Linked DNA regions of Homo sapiens. The protein of the gene in region 1 interacts with the protein of each later gene in a biochemical or structural test. Each region holds a gene or a part of one and is shown on either strand. Other genes may lie near its edges. The genes, in order: CASP9 and NAIP.

Region 1 (10,309 bases):
GTCTTACCGTGTTGCCCAGGCTGCCCTCAAACTCCTGTGCTCCAGTAGTCTGCCCACCTCGGCCTCCCAAAGTGCTGGAATTACAGGTGTGAGCCACTGCACTCGGCCCAAATTGTGTCATTTTATAATCTCACCAACTGCGAGTGAAGGTGACCACTTTCCCACATTCTTGCCAACAGTGAATATTGACATTTTTTCCTGTGTGATGGGTAAAAAGTGCTGTTTTCTTTCAACAAAAATTCACCAAAACTCATTCATATTGTTGTGCATATCAGTAGTTCATTCTTTTTAATTTCTAGATGGCAGCAGTTCCTGTTCTGAATAATCCACAATTTATTTAACCATTTTCCTATTGATGGACATGTGGGTTGTTTTCAGTTGGGGCTTTGTTCCCATGGCAGCGTGTGGAGCTCTAGCACTTCCTGTTTCATGGGTGCCTGGTGGACCATTGCATGGTATCAGAGTTAATATTCATAATAGTAATGGTGAACATTATTGAGTACTTGCTGCATAATGGTGATTTTTGGGCAATCCACTAAAGCAGAGAAACAGACAAACATGATAAGGGTAGGAAGCTGCATTTGCTTGAAGTGTAAGGAAGAAGACTGGTTCTGGAATTGGCCATGTGCATTACCATCCTGTAAAGGAGGCAGGCAGAATACAAAGCTCATCTGTTGTTATTTGGTTCTGGGAAATGTCAACGTGAGTCATTTAGGACCAACAGTCAGAATTTGAAACTTCCTGTTTTTTTGGAAGGTGTTTTATTTCCTGTTTCTTGTGAATATTTATTCCTAGTAGGAGCTTAATTCTGAAGGGTAAATAACAACAGCAATAGTAAGATCACTTAATTTTTTTTACTTTATTATTATTATTTTTTGAGATAGGGTCTTACTCTGTCACCCAGGGTGGAGTGCGGTGGTGTGTTTTCGGCTCACTGCAACCTCTGCCTCCCAGGTTCAAACAATTCTCTCACCTCAGCCTCCCAAGTAGCTGGGACTACAGGTGCACCACCATGCCTGGCTAGTTTTTGTATTTTTTGATAGAGACAAGGTTTCCCCATGTTGGCCAGGCTGGTCTTGAACTCCTGACCTCAAGTGATAAACCCGCCTCAGCCTCCCAAAGTGCTGGGATTATAGGTATGAGCCAGCACGGCTGGCCCAAGATCACTTTAAATAATGTGAATATCACTTTGTAGTATACACAGTGTTTTTTCAGGTCATCAAAACCACCCTGTGCCGTGGTAGACATGGCAAGCCCGTCTGTCATTATATGCTACTTACAGGGGAGGAAACTGGGTTCTGAGAGCAACAGTCACAAAGTGAGTTCCAGTACAGAGCTAGGACTTGGGCCTAGGTCTTCTGGCTTAATAGAGCGACTGTCCCATTTTCCATGAGCTGCTGAGAGATGTCCTTTTTAGATGCTGGGCCTTAGACTCCAGAGTACTGCATGGGAATGTTTCCCAAGGTAGGTTTCATGGTGACCCACAAAGGAAGAGCTGTGTATTCATATGTATGGGAAGGTCTGGCTGAGCAAGAATAGGGCCAGCAGCAGAGCCTTTAATAAGTGAATACAGGAAAGGATGCTGTAGGTCAGTGTTTCACACTGGGGACGATTTTTCCCCGACCTCCAAGGGACATTTGACAATGTCTAGAGACAAATCTGGTTGTTATAGCTGAGGGTGGGTGGGTGCTACTGGCATCTAGTGGGTAGACAGAGATGCTGCCAAAACCCAACAGTGTACAGAGTAGCTCTGCACAATAAAGAAGAATCTGGCCCAAAGGGTTAGTGTGGTGGGGCTGAGTACACACACTGCACTCATACATATTCATTGAGCATGAGTGTCAATGAATAATAATGTGGACACATCAGTTTTATTGAGTTGTCAAGTGTGTCGGGTATTGTTCTATGTGCCTCACATGTATTAATTGTTTGAGGTGTCATCACAATCCTATGAGGTTGGTAGTTGCTCCTATTATCCTGTAATACAGATGGGGAAATCAGAAGCCCAGAGACTCTGAGCTCCTTGCCCATTGTGACACAGGTGCTAAGTGTTGGAGTTGGGATTTGAACCCAAGTACCTCAGACTCACTCCATCACTGTCTCATGAAGAACAAATGGCTCATTCTCTTTCTTGTCCCTATATTTGTGCCATTACTCATTAGCTCACACAAATGTTTACTAAGTACCTGTTGGGTTCTAGGTGTTGGGGATGCAGCTTCGAACAAGGATGCCCAGTCCTTGCCTTCAGGTGGAGAGGGGCAGGTACTCAGTTCATGCTTGCCTAATTTGGTCTTTATTCACGGCTGTGGGTAGTGCTATGAAGCTGAACACGGTGCTTTAGAGGTGCATCATTAGGGGACCCACCAGAGAGAGTGGCTTTGTCTTTGTATATTCAAAGGAAAATGCCTTTTCCTTCAGAATGGAAGGAACTTTCTTAGTTTCAGACGTGATGCCTTGTGTGTAACTGCTTGTTCCAGCCAGGGCCTCTTGCCCGGGAGGACTGGGAGAACTGTTGGTGGCTGTGTTCTCATGATTCTCCAGAGAAAGAGAACCAATAGGGGGTGTGTGTATGTGTATAAAACAGCATCTTTTGTTCAATGCTGCATCCCCAACACCTAGAACTCAGCAGGTACTTAGTAAACATTTGCATGAGCTAATGATTAATGGCACATATACACAGACAAGAAAGAGAATGAGCCGTTCGTTTTTTTTTTTTTTTTTGAGACGGAGTCTTGTTCTGTTGCCCAGGCTGGAGTGCAGTGGCGCGATCTCCGCACACTGCAAGCTCTGCCTCCTGGGTTCACGCCATTCTCTCGCCTCAGCCTCCCGAGTATCTGGGACTACAGGCACCTGCCACCATGCCCAGCTAATTTTTTTGTATTTTTTTTAGTAGAGACAGGGTTTCACCATGTTAACCAGTATGGTCTTGATCTCCTGACCTCGTGATCTGTCCGCCTCAGCCTCCCAAAGTGGTGGGATTACAGGCGTGAGCCACTGCACCTGGCCAAGCCATTTGTCCTTTATGAGGCAGTGATGGAGTGAGTCCGAGGTACTTGGTTCAAAGCCCAACTCCAACACTTAGCAGCTGTGTCACAGTGGACAAGTAGTTGAGTCTCTGGGCCTCTGTTTTATATATATACATATACACACATACACACACGGATATATATAGAAAGATATATGCATTTTTTTTGTGTGTGTATATATATATATCTTTATCTAAAAACATATTTATTACAAGGAACAGGCTCATGCAATTATGGACGCTGAGAAGTTCCAAGATCTGCCATCTGCAAGTTGGAGACCAGGAAAGCTGGTGGTGTAGTTCCAGTCTGAGTCTGAAGGCCTGAGATCCAGGAGCACCAATGGTAGAAGTCCCATTCCAAAGGCAGGAGAAGACTGATGTCCCAGCTCAAGTAGTGAGACAGAGAGAGATCAAATTCTCCCATTCTCCACTGTTTCGTTCTATTCAGGCCCTTGACGGATTGGACGCGGCCCACCATCCTGGGGAGGGCCATCTGCTTTACTCTGTCTACCTATTCAAATCCCATTCTCATCCCCAAAACACTCTCACAGGCACCCTGAGAAATACTGTTATATTTAACCAAATATTTGGGTACCCTGTGATCTAGTCAAGTTGACCTGTGAACTCAACCATCAGTGGCTTTCTCTGCTCATGCCTTGCCTGGGTTGGAACTTCCTTGAAAGTAGAAGTTGGCTTTTCAGCCCTACCTGGCTTCTTGGTCTCTTTGCTCTGGGGCTGGTGGCTGTGCTCACCTCCCATTACAACTCAGGGTCTCTGAGCCCCCAATTCCCCTCTGGCAAATGGGGATGTGTGCCAGTACTTCTGTGCTGAAGGGCCTGCTCTGAGGAGTAAATGAGGCAGTGTGTGGAGGGACTTCACATGGGGCCTCCTATTGAGTGAGCCTTGGGTCTTGTTGGTCAGCTCTGCTTCCTTCTGTGATTTCTAAATTGCCAAGGGCTGGGGAGGGCCAGTCCTAGGGCATCTTCCCTTCTGTAGGGTCCCCCAGTTCCCCTGTTTCTTTCTGTGTCCTGATTGAAAATCACAGAGTGCTTTGACCACCCTGTGACCCAGCCAGCTACAGGTTTTTCCCAGCAGACCTGAGCCCAAACCTGGGCCTTAAACATTCTCAGGCATTGATAAAGGTATCTAGGTAGGCTGGGCATGGTGGCTCACGCCTGTGATCCCAGCACTTGGGGAGGCCAAGACGGATGGATCACTTGAGGCCAGTAGTTTGAGACCAGCCTGGCCAACATGATGAAACCCTGTCTCTACTAAAAATGCAAAAATTAGCTGGGCGTGGTGGTGTGTGCTTGTAATCCCAGCTACTTGGGAGGCTGAGGCAGGAGAATTGTTTGAACCTGGGAGACAGAGGTTGCAGTGAGCCAAGATTGTGCCATTGTACTCCAGCCTGGGCGACAGAGCGGGACTCTGTCTGAAAAAAAAAAAAAAATTAGGTGTGGTGGTGTAGTCCTAGCTACTTGGATGGCTTAGGAGGGAGGGTCACTTGAGCCCAGCAGGCAAAGTTTGCAATGAGTTGAGATTGTACCACTGCACTCCAGCCTGGACAAGAGAGTGAGACTCCGTCTCCAAAAACAAAACAAAACAAAAAGGTATCTAGGTTATCACCCAAAACAACTGAAAGAAACCAGCCTTGGCCCTGAGCCAAATTCCTTAAACCCTCATATAAACTCCTTACCCTGACCTCTTCACTTTGGACCAAACCTAGGTAGACACCTGTTTTTTTTTCTCGCCTCCGCACCTCGAGGATTGCTTTGGCCAGATCGCCCTGGCATTTATTGCTTCTTTCTTTGGAATCCCAACTGGCCCCATCTTAGGACAGTTTGGGGCACTCCCTTGTGGGAACTCTTCTGCTGCCACTTCTGGGGTGATTCCAGCATAGGTTCGGAGGGACGAAACCCCTTCTTTCCCTTGGGTGGCAGAGAGGATGTGCTTGCCCTCTTCTGTTTGTGTTGGAGACCTGGGCACATGCCCAGTGACTCAGGCTGGAAGACTGATTCTTTTGCACACACTTAGCCATGTGTGTTTATTGTCCCCATGGGAGTGGCCATTTCAGGAGAAACTGGTCTCATGCACCTTGTATCTGACCATGTCACCCAACTTGAGGGGCCCTGAACATGCCATGCTCCTGCATCCTCCCTGCCTTTGCTCATGCCGGGGCCTCTGCCTGGAGTGTCTCCTCTCCCTCTTTCTTTGGGCACCCCTTGGTTGATTTGCTCCCTCCATGGGCACCTGTAGCCCTTGGCCTCTTGAGAGCAGTCATTTTGCTTTATCAATAGATATTTCTAATTTGGGGAATGAGTGAATTCCTCAGTAGTGGATAGTAGTTATATTTTTGGGGTACAGCGGAATTTTGGAAATGAGCAAATGTTCTCAGAATGAAGTCTGTGGATGAATAGGAATTTTCAGGGTAGGTAAAACCATTTCTAACTTTAAAAATGGGATGTGAATGGGATGTGAGTGCTTTTCTGCTGTGGCCTTTAAGCTGGCAGAATAGTTCAGACCTGTTCTAAGCAAGGAATGGCACTGTTATTGGAACAGGAGTATGGGCTCCACTGCAACTTGGAGGTGGCCACTGTATTCTCCTTGTTTAAAAAAGAAAAAATGTAGGCCGGGCGTGGTGGCTCATGCCTGTAATCCCAGCACTTTGGGAGGGTGAGGCAGGTGGATCACCTGAGGTCAGGAGTTCGAGACCAGCCTGGCTAACATGGTGAAACCCCATCTCTACTAAAAATACAAAAATTAGCCAAGCGTGATGCAGGTGCCTGTACTCCCAGCTACTTGGGAGGCTGAGGCAGGAGAATCGCTTGAACCCAGGAGGCAGAAGTTGCAGCGAGGCAAGATCGCGCCACTGCACTCCAGCCTGGGTGACAGAGCGAGACTCTGTCTCAAAAAAAAAGAAAAAACATCTCATAACCTTTTAGGCTGGTGGCCAGTCAACTTCTTGCTAACGGAAATGAAAACTCTTTTGATGTTGATGGAAAATAATCATCTTTATTCATTTATTCATTCTGCAAGTATTTCCTGAGGACCTGCTGTGTGCTGGGCCCCTGTGGACTCGCAGACAGTGAGCATCCGCTCTCCTGAGCTTCTCTCACCTCTTTCTGCTCTGGAATTTCTTCTCAATGAGACCACACTATTTCTATACTCTCTGGTGTCTGGCTTTTTTCACGCAGCACGTTTTCTTTCTTTTTTTTTTTTTTGAGATGGAGTTTTGCTCTTGTTGCCCAGGCTGGAGTGCAATGACGTGATCTCGACTCACTGCAACCTCTGCCTCCCAGGTTCAAGCGATTCTCCTGCCTCAGCCTCCCGAGTAGCTGGGATTACAGGCGCCTGCCCCCTCGCCTGGCTAATTTTTCTTTTTTTTTTTTTTTTTTTGTATTTTTAGTACAGATGGGGTTTCACCACGTTGGCCAGGCTAGTCTCGAACTCCTGACCTCAGGTGATCTGCCTCCCAAAGTGCCAGGATTATAGGCGTGAGCCACCGCACCTGGCCTTACGCAGCACATTTTCAAGGTTATCCCGCATTGCGTGTATCAGTGAAGCGGTGTCACTCGTCTGGGGTAAATACCCAAGATTCATTGTCTTCACAGCCACGGAAGACTAGGACACGGACATACAGTGAGGTTCAGAGTGGAAGTATAATAGGTGAAAGAAAGAGAAGAGCTCTGTCTGCTGCAGAGAGAGGGGTTCCAGTGAAATGGGTTGCTGTTTCTGCAATGAAATGCAAGGGGTTTTAAAGATGAGCCTGAGGAGATGGTGTCTGATTTACAAAGGGCACAAAGATTGGTCAGACCAGGTGTTTCATTTGCATAGGATGCATAAAACTGGTTAGGGCTAGGTGTGCCATTTGCATGTGGTGCGAAAAGCTGGCCAGCCCCACTCCAATCTTGTGTTATGCAGATGGGTTCTCTACCTGGCCAGTGCCATGTTGCCTACTTCTTTACTGTCTTGTGGTAACAAAAGGGAAGATAGAGCCTCTTTGCTGAGTATATCTGGCCCCCTGGTAGCCCTTTTCTATTGGCACAGCTGCTGGCATTCACTCCTGTGAGCTTCCAGCTTGCTTATCTATGTCTGCAGCTTGATTTTTCAGGCTGCTCTTTTTTAGAAAAGAAATGATTTGAGGCTGGGTGCAGTGGCTCACACCTGTAATCTCAACACTTTGGGAGGCTGAGGTGGGTGGATCAACTGAGGTCAAGAGTTTGAGACTAGCCTGGCCAACATGGTGAAACCCCGTCTCTACTAAAAATACAAAAAAATTAGCCGGGCATGGTGGTGGGTGCCTGTAATTCCAGCTACTTGGGAGGCTGAGACAGGAGAATTGCTTGAATCTGGGAGGTAGAGTTTGCAGTGAGCCAAGATAGTGCCATTGCACTCCTGCCTGGGCGACAAGAGTGAAACTCCGTCTCAAAAAAGAAAAAGAAAAAAGAAAAAAAAGAAAAGAAACGATTTGGGGATTTTGTTAAAAGGGAAATTCTGCCGAGGACTGTTTTACCCTCACTATCTGCCTAAATAATTTCTTTCTGTCTCCTGTATCATCAGTAGCTCATTCCTTTTTAGGCTGTGTAATGTTCTCTTGTGTGGCTGTATCACAATTTGTATATCTACCAAACTGTTGTTAGATTGGTTGTTTCCATGTTGGGGCGTGATGAATAAGGCCTCAGGGAACATTTTGGCCAAGTCTTTTGTGCCCGTTTGCACTCCTTGCTCTTTGATATATACCTAAGGGTGGACTTGCTGTCAGAGGGTAGGTGTGTGTTTAACTTTGTTAGAAACCTCTAAACAGATCTCCAAGGTGGCTCTCCCACCAGCAGAGTCTGAGGGTCTGAGTTCTCGCTGCTCCGTTCTTGGGGGGCTGTCCTCACAGAGCCCCTTGCCCCTCCTCTGCTGTAACCCAACATTCATGTTTCTCTCTTTCTCTGCCTCTTCAGGTGCTCTTGAGAGTTTGAGGGGAAATGCAGATTTGGTGAGTCTCCATGAAATTTGGGCCAGTAGCTCGGGCTCTGGGCCCTTCCCTCCCCACCCCTCAGGTCCTTCCCTGCAGGTGTGTCAGGAGCCCAGGGAACCCAACCCTAGGCAGTGCAGTGGGGGTCTGGTCTCAGCCTCCCTGACTCCGGCCCAGCGCCTGCTGGGGCAGATTGTTCATCTCTGCGCTTCCTCATCTGCAAAGCTGACAGCAGAAGCAGGGCAGACCTGATGAGGGGCAGTCATCGGGATCCAGACCAAGTCGCCACTCTCTCATTCACAAGTATTTATTGTGTGGCTCCCATGCTCTGTGCTGGGGCCACCTGGGAAGGAGCCATCAGTCAGTTAGGCGAGAGAGAAGTTAGACAAATGAGTATATAAATAGAAATAGTGATAAGTACCATCAACAAAAGAACAGGCTGCCTTGAGAGAATTACAAGGGGACTGAGCCTGGGGAGAGGGCAGCCTTGGGTGCCTCCAGGTGGCCTGGGCATGGTTCTGCTGACAGAGTTCTCAGGTACACCCCGGCCTAGGTGACCCGTGAGGTCCTTTGGGATGAATGCTCATGGCTGTTGGATTTCCAGGTTACCAGCTCCCTTCCCTTAATACCAAGATGGGGGGGTCACCTTCTAGTGCTAGTCTTCCCTGCAGTTGCTTCTCTTTTGCCCTGGAATGCCGGGTGGAGACCCTGCTACTCCTTGTGCGAGAGGGCAGACCCCGTTTTCTTCCCGCCTCTCCAGACTGTCCTCTAGGGAGCGTGGGGAGAGCCCGGGTTTACGTGGGTCCCTGTGCTGGCAGGCTTACATCCTGAGCATGGAGCCCTGTGGCCACTGCCTCATTATCAACAATGTGAACTTCTGCCGTGAGTCCGGGCTCCGCACCCGCACTGGCTCCAACATCGACTGTGAGAAGTTGCGGCGTCGCTTCTCCTCGCTGCATTTCATGGTGGAGGTGAAGGGCGACCTGACTGCCAAGGTACACTCACTATCTGTGGAGGGAGACAGGGTGGGGGGCAGTGGGTGGGGAAGTATCTTTTGAGGGACTCCAAAAGCCAGCTGACTCCCCAGGCGAGCCCTTACATCTGGAGGACCATGGGAGGTAGGACGGCCCAGCGGCTACAGGTTCAAGTTCAGACGCAGAAGTCCGGGTTTGAGGACTGGCTCTCTCGGCCACCTGCTGTGTGACCTCCTGTGCCTCAGTTTCCTTGTCTGGAAAGCAGGAATAGTACCTGCCTCCTTGGGTTGTTTTGGGGGTTAGATGAACAGTGCCCAAGCGTAGCACCTTCTCCCCAAAAATGGTGGCTATTACGACTGCTGGGACTGTCAGCACTTCGGTACTGGCCCTGGGAAACCGAGAAAGTGCTCTGCCCAGGCGTTTGGGTTGGGCCCTTTGTTGTTTTATTTTTTGGGGGGGGCGGGGGCACAGAGTCCCACTCTGTCATCCAGGCTGGAGTACAGTGGCGCGATCTCGGCTCACTGCAACCTCCACCTCCCAGGTTCAAGCAATTCTCCTGCCTCAGCCTCCTGAGTAGCTGGGATTACAGGTGTGTGCCACCATGCCTGGCTAAATTTTTTTTTTTGTATTTTTAGTAGAGACGGGGTTTCACCATGTTGGCCAGGCTGGTCTCGAACTCGTGACCTCAAATGATCCACCTGCCTTGGCCTCCCAAAGTGCTGGGATTACAGGCGTGAACCACCATGCCTGGCCAGGCTGGGCCCTTTTATTGTTAGGAACGGTCCAGTCTGCATCTAGACCTATCCGTGCTTCTGGCTCACCTGCAGCCCTCTCTTGTAGAAAATGGTGCTGGCTTTGCTGGAGCTGGCGCAGCAGGACCACGGTGCTCTGGACTGCTGCGTGGTGGTCATTCTCTCTCACGGCTGTCAGGTAGGAAGCCTCCCACTGTTCCCTGGGCAGGCATTGGGTACTGGCCGTGCCAAGAGGCTGTGCAGGGGCCATGTCCCTTCTTGTGTCCAAAACACCCTTGGCTTTGTGGAAAAGGGCTGTGGGGCCCTGCCCACCTCCTGTTGTTTTCTTGGGAGCCATGTGGTCCTCTGAGGAGTTGGCTGCACCGTCCTGGGCAGGTCGGTGTTCCTGGGAGAAGCCCTCTGGGAGAGGGAGGGCAGAGACCAGGTCTGCTCACGAAGCTCCTGCACCCAGAGTTTGTTCAGAGGCGGGTACAGCACACATGTTGTCTCAGCTCCTGTCTCTGTCCTGTGAGGCACTGCCCCAGGCCCCTTGCTGCTGGTGGGACTCAGGACACCAGGCCCACTGGGGGCTTGGCCCCTTACGTATTTGTCACTG
Region 2 (10,309 bases), on another chromosome or scaffold:
ACTGTCAAATGATTTCACAATTCTAGCTTCATTCGTCCCTATAACTATCTCATCTACTTGTCTAACTTTCTCTCTCTCCTCTTCCTGCCTTTCTCCTCTCCTCCCTTGTTTACTTCCTCCCTCCTAATCTCCTCACTTTCTTTTCAACTATGAAAGTAATATATACTTGTTTCCAAAAATTTAAACAAGACAGCAATGAACAAAATAAATGTGAAAATCCATCACTACTTCACCCCCTGACAAATCCAGATCCAGAAGTATCTACAGTTTGGTTTACATATTTTCATAAGGTTTTCTATATATTTTCAAGCAACTCCATATATAGTTTGAGTGGTTTTAAACATTTTCAAAGTCTCACACTGCACTTATTGTGCATATTGCTTTCCCACACAACGTATCAAAACATATCAAAGATATCCATTCACTTTTTTTTTCTTTTGAGATGGAGTCTCACTCTGTTGCCCAGGCTGCTGTGCAGTGGAGTGATCTTGGCTCACTGCAACCTCCGCCTCCCAGGTTCAAGCAATTTCTTGCCTCAGCCTCCCGAGTAGCTGGAACCATAGGCACGCACCACCACGCTCGGCTCATTTTTGTATTTTTAGTAGAGATGGGGTTTCACCATGTTGGCCAGGGAAGAGGGGAGATAGGAGAGGAGAGAGGAGAGAGGGAAGAGGGGAGAGGAGAGTTCATCACTTGAATGAACTCCTGGCCTCAAGTGATTTGCCCGCCTTGGCCTCCCAAAGTGCTGGGATCACAGGTGTGAGCCACTGTGCCCAGCCTTTTTTTTTTTTTTTTTTTTTTTTGAGATGGAGTCTCGCTGTGTTGACCAGGCTGGAGTGCAGTGGTGCGATCTCAGCTCACTGCAACCTCTGCCTCCCGGGCTCAAGCAATTCTCCTGCCTCAGCCTCCCAAGTAGCTGGGGTTACAGGTGCCTGCCACCACGCCTGGCCAATTTTTGTATTTTTAATAGAGACAGGGTTTTACCATGTTAGCCAGGCTGGTCTTGAACTACTGACATCAAATGATCCGCCTACCTTAGCCTCCCAAAGTGCTGGGATTACAGGCATGAGCCACCATGCCGGGCCTCCATTCACTTTTGTGGGCATGGCTGTCCATGTGCAAGATGACTTATAAATGTAAATAACTGTGTCCAGTTTTGTAGTTAATTTAGTATCCAACCAACAACTTTGCATGTAGTAGGTGTGTGACAAATATTTGTTAAAGAAAATAGAATCTGAGGCTGGGCACGGTGGCTCATGCCTATAATCCCAGCACTTTGGGAGGCCGAGGCAGGTGGACTGCCTGAAGTCAGGAGTTCGAGACCAGCCTCGCAAATATGGAGAAACCCCGTCTCTACTAAAAATACAAAAACTAGTCAGGTGTGGCAGTGCGCACCTATAATCCCAGACCTGGGTGGGGTGAGGCAGGAGAATCGCTTGAACCCAGGAGGCAGAGGTTGCAGTGAGCCAAGATTGCACCGCTGCACTCAAGCCTGGGCAACAGAGTGAGACTGTCACAAAAAAAAAAAAAAAAAAGAAAGAAAGAAAGAAAATAGAATCTGAGCCTGACCAAACTGCTAGATCCAAGTGTCAGGTTCCTGGAAATGCAGAAGGTAGAGGAACATGTTAGACTATGCCAGAGGAACACATTCTGCCAAATCTAGAGTAGAGGGAATTTTACAGGACAGATTACATGGCTTCTTTAACAAATAAGTGACAAGAAAAAAGAGATGGATAAAGAGGAAATCTACGAATTAAAAATCTTAAGGGGCTGAGCACAGTGGCTCATGCCTGTAATCCCAGCACTTTGGGAGGCTGAGGTGGGAGGATCACTTGAGCCCAGGAGTTTGTAGAACCAGGAGTTCCAGACCAGCCTGGGCAACAAAGTGAAACCTTGTCGCTATAAAAGATATGAAAATTAGCTGGGCATGGTGGTAGGCACCTGTGGTCCCAGCTACTCAGGACGCTGAGGTGGGAGGATTGCTTGAGTCTGAGAGGTGGAGGTTGCAGTGAGCTGAGATTGCACCACTAAACTCCAGTCTGGGCTCCAGTCTGGGCAACAGAGCAAAACTCACTCTCAAAAAAAAAAAAAAAAGAAAAGAAAGAAAGAAAACAACAAATCTTGGTCAGGCACAGGTGGCTCATGCTTGTAATCCTAGCACTTTGGGAATCCAAGGTGGGTGGATCACTTGAGGCCAGGAATTTCAGACCAGCCTGGGCAACATGATGAAACCGCATCTCTACTAAAATTACAAAAATTAGCCAGGTGTGGTGGTGCATGCCTGTAATCTCAGTTACTCGGAGGCTGAGGCACAAGAATCACTTGTACCTGAGAGGTGGAGGTTGCAGTGAGCCAAGATCGTACCACTGGGCAACAGGGCGAGACTCTGTCTCAAATAAAATAAAATAAAAATATAGTTATTGTTATTATTTCCAGGAAAAAAGGTGGGTAGGAGATGGATGAAATATGATTTGGCTATGTGTTGACAAGTATTTATTACACTATTCTATCTTTGTATGAAATTTTACACAGTGAAAGTTTAAAAACTTGTTAAAGGAATGAATCTGTACTTGGTAGAAACAAAGAAAGTCATGTAGAAAATACTAGTAAATATAGCATTAAAAATAATTAAAATGTACTTCCTTTTCTAAGCCAGGAACTAAAGACCACTGCAGTAATAAAAACTCTTTCTGAGGTTTAAAAATACAGTGTTTTCATTTGGTATATATTTAGCAGTACATGAAACCATTTGTAATAATGTTTAAATATTTTTTACCTTCCAGCATACACCATTTTACACCACCCCTATGGAAATTATTATTACTTATTTAATTAGTTTTAGAGACAGGGTCTCACTCTGTCACCCAGGCTGGAGCACAGTGGCTTGATCACGGCTCAATGCAGCCTTGACTACCTGGGCTCTAGCAATCTTCCTGCCTCAGCCTCGCAAGTAGCTAGGACTGCAGGTACACGCCACCATGCCTGGCTAACTTTTTTTTTTTGAGACGGAGTCTCACTCTGTCGCCCAGGCCGGAGTGCAGTGGCGCTATCTCGGCTCACTGCAAGCTCTGCCTCCCGGGTTCACACCATTCTTCTGCCTCAGCCTCCCAAGTAGCTGGGACTACAGGCACCCGCCACCGTTCCCGGCTAATTTTTTGTATTTTTAGTAGAGACATGGTTTCACCGTGTTAGCCAGGATGGTCTTGATTTCCTGACCTCGGATCCACCGGCCTCAGCCTCCCAAAGTGCTGGGATTACAGGTGTGAGCCACCGCGCCTGGCCAATTTTTTTTATTTTTGTAGAAACAGGGTCTCTACATGCCAGGCTGGTCTCAAACTCCTGATTTCAAGCAATCCTCCTGCCTTGGCCTCCCAAAGTGCTGGGGTTACAGGTGTGGGCCACCACTTCCAGCCTTATTTATTAATTAAGGCAGATCATGAAACTTCTACTGGGCAAAACCTATCTTAGAATTTGGGATAATGAAATACTTAAAAACTGTTTAAAATTCTATAATTCAAACTTTTCACAATGTAATTAGGCCTTTCCTGCTTGAATAAATCCTGGAGTGGTCCAATTTTGAATAGGGAAAGATCAAAACTGAAGGTGCTACTCCAGAAAGGTGGCTCTTTTGTCTTTCATTTTGTCTTTTAAAGAACTGAAAAATTTAGCCAGGCACAGTGGCTCACGCCTGTAATCCTAGCACTTCGGGAGGCCTAGGTGGGTGGACTGCCTGAGCTCAGGAGCTCAAGACCAGCCTGGGCAACATGGCAAAACCCCATCTCTGCTAAAAATACAAACATTAGCCCATCTTGGTGGTGCACACCTATAATCCCAGCTACTCAGAAGGCTGAGGCAGGAGAATCACCTGAACCAGGGAGGGAGAATTTGCACCGAGCTGAAGTCATGCCACTATACTCCAGCCTGGGTGGCAGAGCAAGACTGTCTCAAAAAAAAAAGAAAGAAACATTTAAGCAAAAATTATCTACTTACTTGGGGAACCATTTGGCATGTTCCTTCCAAGGATCATCTCCTTCTTCCCAATTTCCTAAACATCCACCACAGGAAAAACACTGTACCGTGTCCTGTTTACCTATATATGAAGGAAAATATTTAGATTGCCTGGCAGTGGCACCAGGGGGTATGTACACAGAGTTGATTGTTTTGTTCAGGAGCAAGACAAGCTCCAGCGTGGCTGTGCACTCCCGATCTCATTGGCCTGAGTCTCCATCCTCAATCCCACCACCCAAAATGGGCCCCTCCACCACAGCCGTGCTCTAGGTACAGAACCCTAAGCTGTGTAACTCAATATCCTGCCCCAGCTGCCCCCCAGAGCTGGTATGTTGCTCTTTGAGTTCTCAGGGTCAAAGTGATAGGGAAGCCGACTAACACCAGGACCAGCTGAAGTAACGTGCAATTAGAAAACCTACGTTTTAGCCTTGCCATGACATTTCGGTAGAAACATAGGCATGTTTCTTAAAGTCTCTGAGCCTCCATGAACTCAGCTGTGAAATGGGAGAGAAAGGGGTAAATTCATTGGATAAGAATTAGTACTCACTCTATGCCTAGCATAAAGTAGGTACAGTACTCAGTAAATGATCGTTGTTATTGTTAGAACTCTGATTTATATATCATAACCCCTATGGCGGGGCTAGGACAAACAAACAAAACCCTCCAATACTGCAGCAATGAGAAGAATCAAAGAAAGATCATGTAAGAGCAGTAGAAGGAGGGTGGGTGAGGAGACTGGGATCAGGATGACCGCATGAGTTATTTAATCTTTTCAGGACCTTAAGAATACAGCCAGTATTTTCTAAGGTCCAAGTTTAAGGAGACGTAACTTTCTTATTTTATATATATTTGACAAATTAACACAGGCTGTACTAAATAGAAAATGAAGCAAAAATAAAAATATTGATGTTGAATTTTAATAAACTAGACCTTATACCTAATATAACACATTTAACCAGTGAAGAAAGTTTAGCAAAATATTGCAAAAGCAATTGAAAAATAAAACCTAAACTTAAAACGCCAGAGAAACACTTCAGAGAATAATTTCAAGGTACCTGTAAAGACAAAGCCAGCCTCTGAGAGCACACAAGGGGATATCCCTTGGACATAAAATGGCCAGTTCCTGAAGGACGCAAGTCTAGCCTCCTCTTCTTGGTACCTCATTTTACCTCCTCTCAGCCTGCTCTTCAGATTCTTCACCCTTATGTCGTACTTGGCAATGTTACCAACATCCTTGTTCAAAAGGAACCCACAATCTGGATGAAACCTCTTGTGGTCTTCTATGGGGAGTCTCGTGAGGCCGGCACCAAAGAGGATTAGGCTACAGCAGAAGCACTGAATCCCAGATTTTACCCCAGTGAAGTAAAACCCAGCGGCCGCCATCTCCTGTGGTATCCATGAGCTGTACGGCTCATAAGTCACAAAAGTCTTTAACCTTTTTGCTTCACTGCGCATTTGAGAGTTGTAGCCTTTCTGCATTTTTGCTCGCTCCTTCTGCTCCTCTTCTTCTAGTTCCTTTGCCAACTGAACTGCATCTAGGCCCAGAAGAGCAGACAGCTCTGGCAGCAAATTGTGATCAAACTGGGAGATCCTCTCGTCAGAGGCTTTCTGCTGGGTGGCCATTTTCTGAAAAGGAAAATAAAGCAGGTTGATCCCTTATAGTAAGATTTTTCTTAGAAGAGCATTTCCCACTGTTTCCGAAGAAACCAGGAATTAAAGGAATGCCTGGAATTTCAACACAAAAGATAAATTGTTGGAAAATTATGAAACATCAGTATTCATCTACTTAATCAACAAATATTTACTAAGCACCTACTATATATCAGGTACAGTGCTAGACATTGGGGATCTAGCAACCAACAAGACAGACACCCATCTGCCTCCATTCATGAAGCTTTCCAGATATCAGTTATGGACACAATGTGGTAACATGAGCATATACTGAACATTTATATTAAAGAAAAACATAGACAAAATTGTATAGCCTGGCAGCAACAATTTGATCGAATTACTCAGTTTTAAAAAATCATTATTTTGTGTTCATGTTTTAAGTCTCGGTGCTCTGGCCGGGCGCGGTGGCTCACGCCTGTAATCCCAGCACTTTGGGAGGCCGAGGCAGGTGGATCACGAGGTCAGGAGATGGAGAACATCCTGGCTAACAAGGTGAAACCCCATCTCTACTAAAACTACAAAAAAAATTAGCCGGGCGTGGTGGCGGGCGCCTGTAGTCCCAGCTACTCGGGAGGCTGAGGCAGGAGAATGGCGTGAACCCAGGAGGTGGAGCTTGCAGCGAGCCGAGATCGCGCCACGGTACTCCAGCCTGGGTGACAGAGCAAGACTCCGTCTTAAAAAAAAAAAAAAAAAAAAGAAGCTCAGTAACAGGCCAATGACTGTTTTTCAAAGGACATATACCTGCCAGAAGCCTCGGGTAACTTTCTAGTGTCAAATCCCCATGACCATCCCTGAGGGGCAGTCACGGGCTTTGGTAAGAAGCTCCATCAGCGTGAGTCGGTTGCTGACATTGCTAACATCATTTGAACACTGAGGTGCTATGGCCCCAAAGTAATCTCTTCGAAGTTCCCAAAAAGTCTCCCATTTGTTCATTTTTCAAAGCCCCATGTAAATTAGCTCCCCATTCCCTCTTAACTTCGAGAATAAGGGTTGATAAAATTCCCAAACATGGTATGTGATTTCTCCAGGAACCAAGAAATTGAACTAATTTTCGTGCCTTTTTCCTCTGTCTTGTAGCTAGCAACTTAATTTTGGTTGTTTGGGAATGTTTCTAGTGGCTCTAGCCCAAGTAATTCCTCCTTTTTTTTTTTTTTTAGACAGTCTCACTCTGTCACCCAGGCTGGAGTGCAGTGGCGTGGCCTCGGCTCACTGCAACCTCCGCCTCCTGGGTTCAAGCAATTCTCCTGCCTCAGCCTCCTGAGTAGCTGGGATTACAGGCACGTGCCACCAATTGCGGCTAATTTCTGTATTTTTAGTAGACACAAGGTTTTGCCATGTTGGCCAGCTTGGTCTCCAACTCCTGACCTCAAGTGATCCGCCTGCCTTGGCTTCCCACTCTTGTCCTTGTCGCCCAGGCTGAAGTGCAGTGGCGCAATCTCAGCTCCCACACCGGGATTACAGACGTGAGCCACCACACCCAGCCTAGCCCAAGTAATTTCTAAGAATTTTACCATTTATTCTAAGCCTTGCATTTTAGCCAGTTAATCATCCCTCCCTGGTGGTTATATGATTAACAAGCACTTCCAATTCAGTCTTAGCTGGATATTTGGATTGAGAGATTAACATTATTATCATCAATATAATAAGACATAGTATTAGCTGGGCGCAGTGGCTCATGCCTGTAATCCCAGCACTTTGGGAGGCTGAGGCGGGCAGATCACCTGAGGTCAGGAGTTCAAGACCAGCCTGGCCCACATGGTGAAACCCCATCTCTACAAAAATAAAAAAAATTAGCCGGGCATGATGGTGGGTGCCTGTAATCCCAGCTACTCAGGAGGCTGAGGCGGGAGAATCAGTTGAACCTGGGAGGCAGAGGTTGCAGTGAGCCAAGATCTCGCCATTGCACTCCAGCCTGGGTGACAGAGTGAGACTCCATCTCAAACAAACAAAAAAAAGATATAGTATTTTCCAGTGCAATCAAATCTAAGTTGTTCCTCATTAGGTTGTAGCAATAAGCAAGATAATTTAAATGTCCTGTGGGAGCAGCTTAAATGTGCATTGGTGGCCTTTCCACACAAATGCAAATTGATTATGATTTTCTCCTGAAATAGGAATCAAAAAGAAAGTAAGTGGCCAAGTGTGGAGGCTCACACCTGTAATCCCAGCATTTTGGGAGGCCAAGGTGGGAGGATTGTTTGTGGCTAGGAGTTTGAGGCCAGTTTAGGCAACTTAGTGAGATCCTTGTCTCTACAAAAAATTTTAAAAATTAGCCAGATGTGTTGGCACATGCCTGTAGTCCCAGCTACTCGGGGAGCAGAGGCAGAAGGATCACTTGAGCCCAAGAATTCAAGGTTACAGTGAGCCACAATTATGCCACTCACTGTACATTTCATGAAATCTCTTTCCTCAACAGCATCCCCATTCAGATGTCACATCCATTCCGATAATATATCAGGGAGAGATGATAACAATTATGCAATTATATTGCATAATTGAATTATATTGAAATATAATCCATCGGGAGCAGTGGCTCATGCCTGTAATCTCAGCACTTTAGGAGGCCGAGGTGGGTGGATCACCTGAGGTCAGGAGTTTGAGACCAGCCTGGCCAACATGGCAAAACCCCATCTCTACTAAAAATACAAAAAAAAAAAAAAAAAGAAATTAGTCAGGTGTGGTGGCACGTGCTTGTAGTCCCAGCTAGTTGGGGCTGGCTGTGGTGGCTTACACCTATAATCCCAGCACTTTGGGGGGCTGAGGCCAGGAGTTCAAGACTAGCCTTGCCAACATGGTGAAACCCCATCTCTACTAATAATACAAAAAAAATAGCTGGGCATGGTGGCGCATGCCTATAATCTCAGCTACTCGGGAGGCTGAGGCAGGAGAATTGCTTGAACCCACGAGGCAGAGGTTGCAGTGAGCCGAGATCGCACCACTGCACTCCAGCCTAGGCGACAAGAGTGAAACTCCATCTCAAAAAAAGAGAAAGAAATATAATTCACACATCATAAAATTCACCCATTTAAAATGAACAACTGAGGGTGCGGTGACTCATACCTATAACCCCAATGCTCTTGAGGCCAAGGCGGGAGGATTGCTTGAGACCAGGAGTTGAGATCAGCCTGGGCAACATAGCTAGACCCTGTCTCTAAAAAAACTTTTTTTTTAAGAAAACGAAAACTTAGCGGGGCATGGTGGCATGTGCCTGTAGTCCTAACTACGTGGGAGGCTGAGGTGGAAGGATCTCTTGAGCCCAGGAATATGAAGCTGCGGGGAGCTATGATTGCAGTACTATACTCCAGCCTGGACAACAGAGTGAGGCTCTGTCTCTAAAAAAAGTAAATAAAATGTACAGTTCAATAAATATCAGCATATTCATAAACATGCACAACCACCACCACAATCAATTTTAGAACATTTTCATCCCCCCAGAAAGAAACGCTGTGCCCATTAGCAGTTGCTTTCCATGTCCCCCATTACCCTCCTAGCCCTAGGCAACTACTATGTTACTTTCTGTCTCTATAGATTTGCCTACTGGGGACATTTCATTTAAATTGAATCATACAGTACGTGGTCCTTTGTGTCTGGTTGCTTTCACTTTGCAAAATGTTCATGTTGGTAGAGGTGCTTAAAAAATAAAATAAAAAGAACAACAAAAAAAGGAAGCGAAATTCATCCATGTTGTATTGTTTTAGTACTTCATATTCCTTTTCATTGTCAAATAATATTTCATTATGTGGATATACCACACTTTATTATCACATATACCATATTTTATTCCTCAACCCAGTTGATGGATGTGTGGATTGTTTACGCTTTTTGGCTATTATAAATAATACCGCTGTGCACATTAGTGTGCAAGTTTTTATATGGACATTTTTCACTTTTTTTTTTTCTTGAGACAGGGTCTTGCTCTGTCACCTAGGCTGGAGTGCAGTGGCTTGATCACCATCCATTGCAGCCTCAACCTCAAGGGCTGAAGCGATCCTCCCACCTCAGCTTCCCAAGCAGCTCGTACGACAGGAGCACACCACCATTTTTTATAGAGACAAGCGTGTTGGGGGTGTTGGTGGGGGGGGTCTCACTATGTTGCCAAGTTGGTCTCAAACCCCTGGGCTCAAGTGATCCTCCCACCTCAGCCTCCTAAAGTGCTGGGATTACAGGCCTGAGCCACCACACCTGGCCCATTTTTCACTCTTAAACTTACAGTTGTATTGTCATACTAAACTAAGTTAATTGCTGTTTAATTTTTTATTAGCAGGTATAACAATACATTATGCACCATGGTCCAACAATGACAATAAAGTTTTTCACCACTCCGGGCATTTTATCCACACCAATGTAAATGTCCTTGGGTCCCATAGCACCAAGAGACTCTGCCACCCTTTTCTTTACATCACACTGCTTTAAAGTGACTGTAGATTCTGCTTTTGCATCATCCTAAAGGTTTATTTGTTTAATTCATCAAGACTAGGATACATTAGAAATCTTGACTGGGCACAGTGGCTCACACCTGTAATCCCAGCACTTTGGGAGGCTAAGGTGGGAGGATTGCTTGAGCCCAGGAATTTGAAACCAGCCTGGGCAACAAAGTGAGATGGAGTCTTGCTCTGTTCACCCAGGCTGGAGT

Evidence for each region.
Region 2: the proteins of CASP9 (region 1) and NAIP interact in far-western blotting, tested with the Homo sapiens proteins (one study listed by BioGRID).

The regions. Positions count from the first base shown.
Region 1 is NC_000001.11:15,505,573-15,515,881, reverse strand, and holds part of CASP9 (caspase-9 isoform alpha precursor), read left to right. Parts: intron 1-7,974; coding exon 7,975-8,009; intron 8,010-8,748; exon of another isoform or gene 8,749-8,806; coding exon 8,807-8,983; intron 8,984-9,802; coding exon 9,803-9,892; intron 9,893-10,309. UniProt on the Homo sapiens protein: Involved in the activation cascade of caspases responsible for apoptosis execution. Binding of caspase-9 to Apaf-1 leads to activation of the protease which then cleaves and activates effector caspases caspase-3 (CASP3) or caspase-7 (CASP7).
Region 2 is NC_000005.10:71,007,285-71,017,593, forward strand, and holds part of NAIP (baculoviral IAP repeat-containing protein 1), read right to left. Parts: intron 5,635-10,309; 5' UTR 5,632-5,634; coding exon 5,064-5,631; intron 4,091-5,063; coding exon 3,991-4,090; intron 1-3,990. UniProt on the Homo sapiens protein: Anti-apoptotic protein which acts by inhibiting the activities of CASP3, CASP7 and CASP9. Can inhibit the autocleavage of pro-CASP9 and cleavage of pro-CASP3 by CASP9.